Homo sapiens: one gene and its partner. The protein of the gene in region 1 purifies or fractionates together with the protein of each later gene. This does not show direct contact. Each region holds a gene or a part of one and is shown in the gene's direction. Other genes may lie near its edges.

Region 1 (3,500 bases):
CGCCTGGCCCAAGACGCCGAGGTGGAGCTGGAGCGGCAGCGTGGGCTGCTGCAGCAGATCGGGGATGCCCTGTCGAGCCAGCGGGGGAGGGTGCCCACCGCGGCCCCTCCCGCCCAGCCGCGTGTGCCTGTGACCCCCGCGCCGGCGGTGATTCCCATCCTGGTCATCGCCTGTGACCGCAGCACTGTTCGGCGCTGCCTGGACAAGCTGCTGCATTATCGGCCCTCGGCTGAGCTCTTCCCCATCATCGTTAGCCAGGACTGCGGGCACGAGGAGACGGCCCAGGCCATCGCCTCCTACGGCAGCGCGGTCACGCACATCCGGCAGCCCGACCTGAGCAGCATTGCGGTGCCGCCGGACCACCGCAAGTTCCAGGGCTACTACAAGATCGCGCGCCACTACCGCTGGGCGCTGGGCCAGGTCTTCCGGCAGTTTCGCTTCCCCGCGGCCGTGGTGGTGGAGGATGACCTGGAGGTGGCCCCGGACTTCTTCGAGTACTTTCGGGCCACCTATCCGCTGCTGAAGGCCGACCCCTCCCTGTGGTGCGTCTCGGCCTGGAATGACAACGGCAAGGAGCAGATGGTGGACGCCAGCAGGCCTGAGCTGCTCTACCGCACCGACTTTTTCCCTGGCCTGGGCTGGCTGCTGTTGGCCGAGCTCTGGGCTGAGCTGGAGCCCAAGTGGCCAAAGGCCTTCTGGGACGACTGGATGCGGCGGCCGGAGCAGCGGCAGGGGCGGGCCTGCATACGCCCTGAGATCTCAAGAACGATGACCTTTGGCCGCAAGGGTGTGAGCCACGGGCAGTTCTTTGACCAGCACCTCAAGTTTATCAAGCTGAACCAGCAGTTTGTGCACTTCACCCAGCTGGACCTGTCTTACCTGCAGCGGGAGGCCTATGACCGAGATTTCCTCGCCCGCGTCTACGGTGCTCCCCAGCTGCAGGTGGAGAAAGTGAGGACCAATGACCGGAAGGAGCTGGGGGAGGTGCGGGTGCAGTATACGGGCAGGGACAGCTTCAAGGCTTTCGCCAAGGCTCTGGGTGTCATGGATGACCTTAAGTCGGGGGTTCCGAGAGCTGGCTACCGGGGTATTGTCACCTTCCAGTTCCGGGGCCGCCGTGTCCACCTGGCGCCCCCACTGACGTGGGAGGGCTATGATCCTAGCTGGAATTAGCACCTGCCTGTCCTTCCTGGGCCCCTCCTTGCCACATCATGAGCTGAGGTGGGACCACAGTCCCCAGGCTGCATCGGCCTGCCTGTGTTTCCCTCTTAGGTGCATTTATCTTTTTGATTTTTCCGAGTGGCATTTAAGTGCACAAATGATAACAAGAGGATTATTCTCCCGTTCTCAAGGGAGTCAGATCAGGGGAACTATTCTAGGGTATGTTGCGGGGTATTAAGCAGGAAACCACTGTGTGGTGGGGGGCACTGGGCTTGTTGGGGCCAGAAATGTCCACGTCCTGAGCTTTCTCCTGGAGCATGTGCAGAGAGTTTGGCAACGTTCGCTCTCTTGACCAGACCCCTTCTCCCTGACCTGGCTCTTCCAGCCAGGGCACGAGCCCTCCTTCTATACCTGCTCCCCTTCCCCCAGTGGGGACTGAGTTATGGGAGAAGGGGACATATTTGTGGCCAAAATGATACTAACCAAAGGGGCTTCCTTGTCAGGGCCTGGTGGAGTTGGTGGGTCATCGGGGCTCACTGCCTCCTGCCCTTCTCTCCTGTCTGACCCCCACTTAGCCCTTCTCTCCTTGCAGCCTAGCAGTTTATAGTTCTGAGATGGAAAGTTGAAGGGGGCAAGCAAGACCTCTCCTCAGCCCATGCCCAGCTGTCAGGAGAGAGGTGCAGGGAGGAAGGCCTTGTGCTGGGACAACCTCTCTCTTGCCTTACCTCAGAGAGGGACTATGCCCTGACCCCTCCTTTCTGAAAATCAGTGCCCTCCCTGTTGCTCTAGGAGGCTCCTGCTGGCTTGGTAGAAGACAGAATTCGATCTGCCTGTCCCTTTTTCCCCTGGGGTTTGACACACAGGCTCCTCTCAGCATGAGGTGGAGCAGTGACCAGGTGGAGCAGTGACCAGGACGCCTCTGGCCCAGTGCTGCCCAGCCTCCCCGCCCGCTCCCAGGCGCCCCATGTCCTCACAGGCCAGGACGCCATGGCAGGATGGAGAGGACTTGGTGGATTTTTGTTTCTTGCCTGACCTCAGTTTCATGAAAGAAAGTGGAAGCTACAGAATTATTTTCTAAAATAAAGGCTGAATTGTCTGAAAAATATTTATGTGTGTGTGTCCTGGAAAAGGAGGTGGCAGGCAGGGAAAGAAAGGAAAAGGGAGAATGAAGAGTTAAGGAGAGGGCTAGACGGGTGGGAGGAAGCAAAGTTGAGGAAAGAAAGCAGATGAGTGGGAGGGAAGAGCCAGGGACAGCCCAGGGGATGGGGGCCAGGTGGGAAAGGAAGTCCAGGCCACAAGGTGGAGAGGAGCCCCGGACTGTGCTCCTGCTGATCGTCCTGTAGAGCCAGGAGGCCGCAGCAGGAAAGCTGGTGAGTGTCTCCTGCTTCTGCCTCCTGCTGGCTGGGCAGGCCTGGTCTGGGGAAGAACCAGGTCCTCTGATCAGGGTGGTCCCTGAGTGGTGCTTTGTGCCCGGTGCCCTCTGCTGGCCCAGGCAGTGCTTATTGAGTGCCCTTTATGACGTGCCGGGGAGCCTCAGGGTACACAGCTGATACCAGGGTTGGCCTCACAGTGGCGCTTGGACTCCCAAACGCAACCCCAGTGAGAGTGCCTGTTTTGCTAATACCCAGAACACAGACAGACTGTTACCTCTGCATATCACGTGCAACATTCTGAGAGTTTCTGTTCTCCACTAATTCATTTAAAAGAACAAAACGCGGCCGGGCGCAGTGGCTTACACATGTAATCCCAGCACTTTGGGAGGCTGAGGCGGACGGATCACGAAGTCAGGAGTTCGGGACCATCCTGGCCAACATGGTGAAACCTAAAAATACTCTACTAAAAATACAAAAACTTGCTGGGCATGGTGGCACACACCTGTAATCCCAGCTACTCAGGAAGCTGAGGCTGGAGAATCACTTGAACCCGGGAGGCAGAGGTTGCAGTAATCCAAGATCATACCACTGCACTCCAGCCTGGGCGACAGAGCAAGACTCTGTCTCGGAAAAACAAAACGCTTTTTGTGACTCACGAACTTGATTTCATGAGTGGGTTTGAAAACCCTGGGCTAGTCCAGGCGCGGTGGCTCACGCCTGTAATCCCAGTACTTTGGGAGGCTGAGGCGGGTGGATCACTTCAGGAGTTTGAGACCAGCCTGGCTAACATGGTGAAACCCCATCTCTACTAAAAATACAAAAATTAGCTGGGTGTGGTGGCACATGCCTGTAATTCCAGCTACTTGGGAGGCTGAGGCAGGAGAATTGCTTGAACCCGGGACGGGGTGGTTGCAGTGACCTGAGATCGCACCACTGCACTCCAGCCTGGGCGGTAAGAGCGAAACT
Region 2 (3,500 bases), on another chromosome or scaffold:
CTGCTCCGTGGAATGAATGAATGAACAGCCTGGTAGGGTTGGGAGGACACAGAAGCAGTGACAACACAGAATGTGACAGGGAAGGCCAGGGGCCTGGGGTTGCCCGGCGCTGGGTGGGGAGGGGAGTCAGGGAAGCCTTCCTGGAGGTGGTGCCCATGTTGCTGACTTTGGACCTCTGTGAGATCAGCACTGAATGAGCTGAGAGAGGAGTAGCTCCTCTCCAAAGGTAGCTGGCAAGGAGGAGAGCTTGGGCAGACCCCAGGACCAGTGGACTCCACAGGCCTCTCACTTCCCACCAACCCACACCATCTCTCCATCTGTGACATTCTGCTTTCAGGGCATGAGGAAGGCGGAAAGGCAGGTGGGGAGGAAGTGTGGGCTGCTGGTCTGACAGGCTCAGCTCTTCCCAGGCTTGTGACCAAATCTCCTGCAGAAAAGGATAAACAGGCCTGCTTTGAGTTCTTTTATCTTCTTGCTCCCAAGGCACACCAGCAAGCAGAGGGGGTCTTCCAGCGTTAATCCTGCAGCTGTTTAGCTTTTGAACGAGTGGACTCTTTAAAAAAAATGCCACGAAGAATGTCTCACTCTCTCACCCAGGAGGCTCAAAGAGAAACTTCTCTCCCACTGACAAGGGAGCTGGAACCCCCAAGTGTCTTAAAGAAGCTCACCCCAGGGGCAGTCTGAAATCAGGGGACCCCTCATGCTGCCTCGATTTGTTGCTGGCTGTGGGGCCTTGAGGACACCCTTATATTTTGCTTGGCTTCTGCCCATTTTGTAAAATGGGGTCAGGGTAATAAATCCCTTCTTTCCTTAGAAAGGCGTGTGGCAGGAGAGTTTCAGAGGTGGGAAGGGCAGCAGTGGGCATCCAAGCCCATGGCTTTCAAACTTTGTTTCACATTAGAATCATCTGGGAAACTTTTAAAAGTCCTGCAGGCCCCACAATCTCTGGGGCATGACCCAGGCATCAGTAGTTGATGAAGCTCCCCTGGTGATTTCAGTTTGAGAGCCACCTGGCTGCCCTCTGCAGCCTACCTCCCACAGTGTCCCAAGACAATACTTGCACATCCCCAGGACAAGGAGCTCATTCCTTCCGAGGCTGCTTCCTCCCCCCAGGACCTTCCTGCCTGGAGAGATGAGGGGAGTGGGAAGACTTGGTAATCCAGTTAACCTGGGTTCCAGCATGCAGCTGCTCCCTGCGTGTCTTCTCGGAGCCTCAGTTTCCTCATCTGAAAAATGACAATAACGATCTCTCTGAAAGGGCCACAGAGGCCAGACGAGGCCACACATGGCAAGCACCCACCCCATACCTGACGCCGGGCTGGACTGAGACCCTGAACTCCCTGCCCCAGCCACCTGAGGCCAGGTCTCTGAGACTGGCGCTGGTTAGGGTGGGATCAACACCCAGCCCGGGGGCCCTTCCCACTGTCCCCTTTCTCTCTAAGAGATAAGACAAGGCAGTAAGCATTTTGTTTTGCTCAGTTTTGCTTTAATGGTCAAAGTGTCAGACTCTCCTTAACAATGAAGCCTTGTCTGAATCTGCTTGTTTTTCCAACCCGGACACCCAACTGCACCACCTGCTTGGGGCCCCTGTCCCACCTGGGAGAACTGAAGAATGTCAGAGGATTTTTTTTTTTAATCTAGGGGAGGGTGTCCAGGGAACATTGGAGGCCTCTGTGCAAATCCTCACCGATAATTGACCCCACTTAAGTCATCCAACTCTGCTGTGATTGTGAGCCAGTTCACTAAAATTATTTCAAGGTAGTTACTAGGTGTTGAGCTAAACCCCTATCAGTGCCAGTGAGGATGGCACCAGGCTCAAGAGGCCAAAGAGGAGACCCAGAGCCAGCGAATGAGCCATGGGGTTTTACTACGGGCTCACACACAGGGGAGAGAGTCCAGTGGCTGCTGGCTGGACCGAAGAACCACAACCACTCGCAGGAAGTGTGCAGTTTTTTTGTTTTTGGTTTTGGTTTTGGTTTTTTTTTTTGAGACAGAGTTTCGTTCTTATTGCCCAGGCTGGAGTGCAATGGCGCGATCTTCACTCACTGCAGCCTCCGCCTCCCAGGTTCAAGCGATTCTCCTGCCTCAGCCTCCCAAGTAGCTGGGATTACAGGCAAGTGCCACCACACGCAGCTAATTTTGTATTTTTAGTAGAGATGGAGTTTCGCTATGTTGGTTAGGCTGGTCTCAAACTCCTGACTTCAGGTGATCCGCCTGCCTCAGCCTCCCAAAGTGCTGGGATTATAGCTGTGAGCTACCGCCCCCCAGCCTAAAAGCTTGCAATTTCTATAGCATTTTCACTTAGCACCTCCCCCAACAACTTCCACCTAGCAACCTCCATTTACCCCAAACCACAGACCTCAATCCTCTGTTTGGCCCGCAAGTTCCATAGGATGGGCCAAGAGCTCAGATGTTCCTCATAGATAAGGAGTGGATCTCCGGGTTGGCTACTCCCAGATTCCTTAGCTTAGAACCAAACTGCATTGAGGTGCGCCTGCCATACAAGGTCATTCTCAGGGCTTGCTCAAGTCCAGGTATCACTGTCCAACGTGTCTACCATACAGAAGACAGAAAACTTATGTTGATCCTGGCTTTGTCACTTACTGGCAGGATGACCCTGGAAGAATCATTTTATCTCTTTGAGCACGAGTTGTTTCTCCTATAAAATGCATTTGTAGGAAGGACTTCCTGGGATTACCTGAGAAGCAAATAAAATTACTGGTATGTGGAGCACAGTGCCTACCGTAAACTAAGCACTCAAGAGCTGTTGGTGCATGCACTTGCTGGGGAGCTGACCCCTGCCTCCTGCCCCTTCCTTCACTGGCTGGTCCACGCTCCCTGTCTCCCAGTCTGCTCCCCTTGCCCCACCAGGCCCAGGCTGAGACAGAGGACAGAGGAGGCCTGCACATGTAATCATGGGCATCCCTTCAAACTGCTCTTCTTTAAGACCAGAGGAGGCTCTGAGGACTGGACAGAGGAAGACTACAAAAGGGGCCATCAGTGGCAGTGCTTGGTCTCCTTGCCTGGGCACAGCCAGAGAGGGTACATCAACCCAGAGTGACTGGCTCAGGCATTAGGCGTGTGACAAATCAACACGGGATAGTGCAGCACCGAGGGACTAGCAGTGGCTGGGAGCAGTTACCACTCAGGGCTGAAGGAGCAAGGGAAGTGGGCAGCTATAGGGATAGGGGCTGTGGGCCATCAGTACAGGGACCCAGTCAACCCAGGAGACCTCACAGGGGATAAACTTCAACTATCTTTCCTCTTTCCTTCAGTCCCCCATTTATGCTTCCTGTTGGGTGTACCTCTCTGAAAGCCAGCAGCATGGAGCCCATTACATTCCACAGAGGTCAGTTCCCAGGGCCCCAAACAAGGTAGAGAGTGGCTCTGGAGAAGCAAACCAAAGACACTTCCTCACTCTGTCCATCAAAAGCCCGGGAGTCCACTGAATACACTGTCCTTAGGACACAGTTTAAAGATCATCTGTTTTTACCATACCC

What was found. Proteins that work in one complex are often made in the same cells at the same time.
Region 2: the proteins of MGAT1 (region 1) and GDPD5 purify together in Homo sapiens (co-immunoprecipitation; one large-scale study listed by IntAct). This does not show direct contact.

The regions. Positions count from the first base shown.
Region 1 is NC_000005.10:180,789,307-180,792,806, reverse strand, and holds part of MGAT1 (alpha-1,3-mannosyl-glycoprotein 2-beta-N-acetylglucosaminyltransferase), read left to right. Parts: coding exon 1-1,173; 3' UTR 1,174-3,500. UniProt on the Homo sapiens protein: Initiates complex N-linked carbohydrate formation. Essential for the conversion of high-mannose to hybrid and complex N-glycans.
Region 2 is NC_000011.10:75,515,942-75,519,441, reverse strand, and holds part of GDPD5 (glycerophosphodiester phosphodiesterase domain-containing protein 5), read left to right. Parts: exon of another isoform or gene 1-427; intron 428-1,168; exon of another isoform or gene 1,169-1,226; intron 1,227-2,015; exon of another isoform or gene 2,016-3,500. UniProt on the Homo sapiens protein: Glycerophosphodiester phosphodiesterase that promotes neurite formation and drives spinal motor neuron differentiation.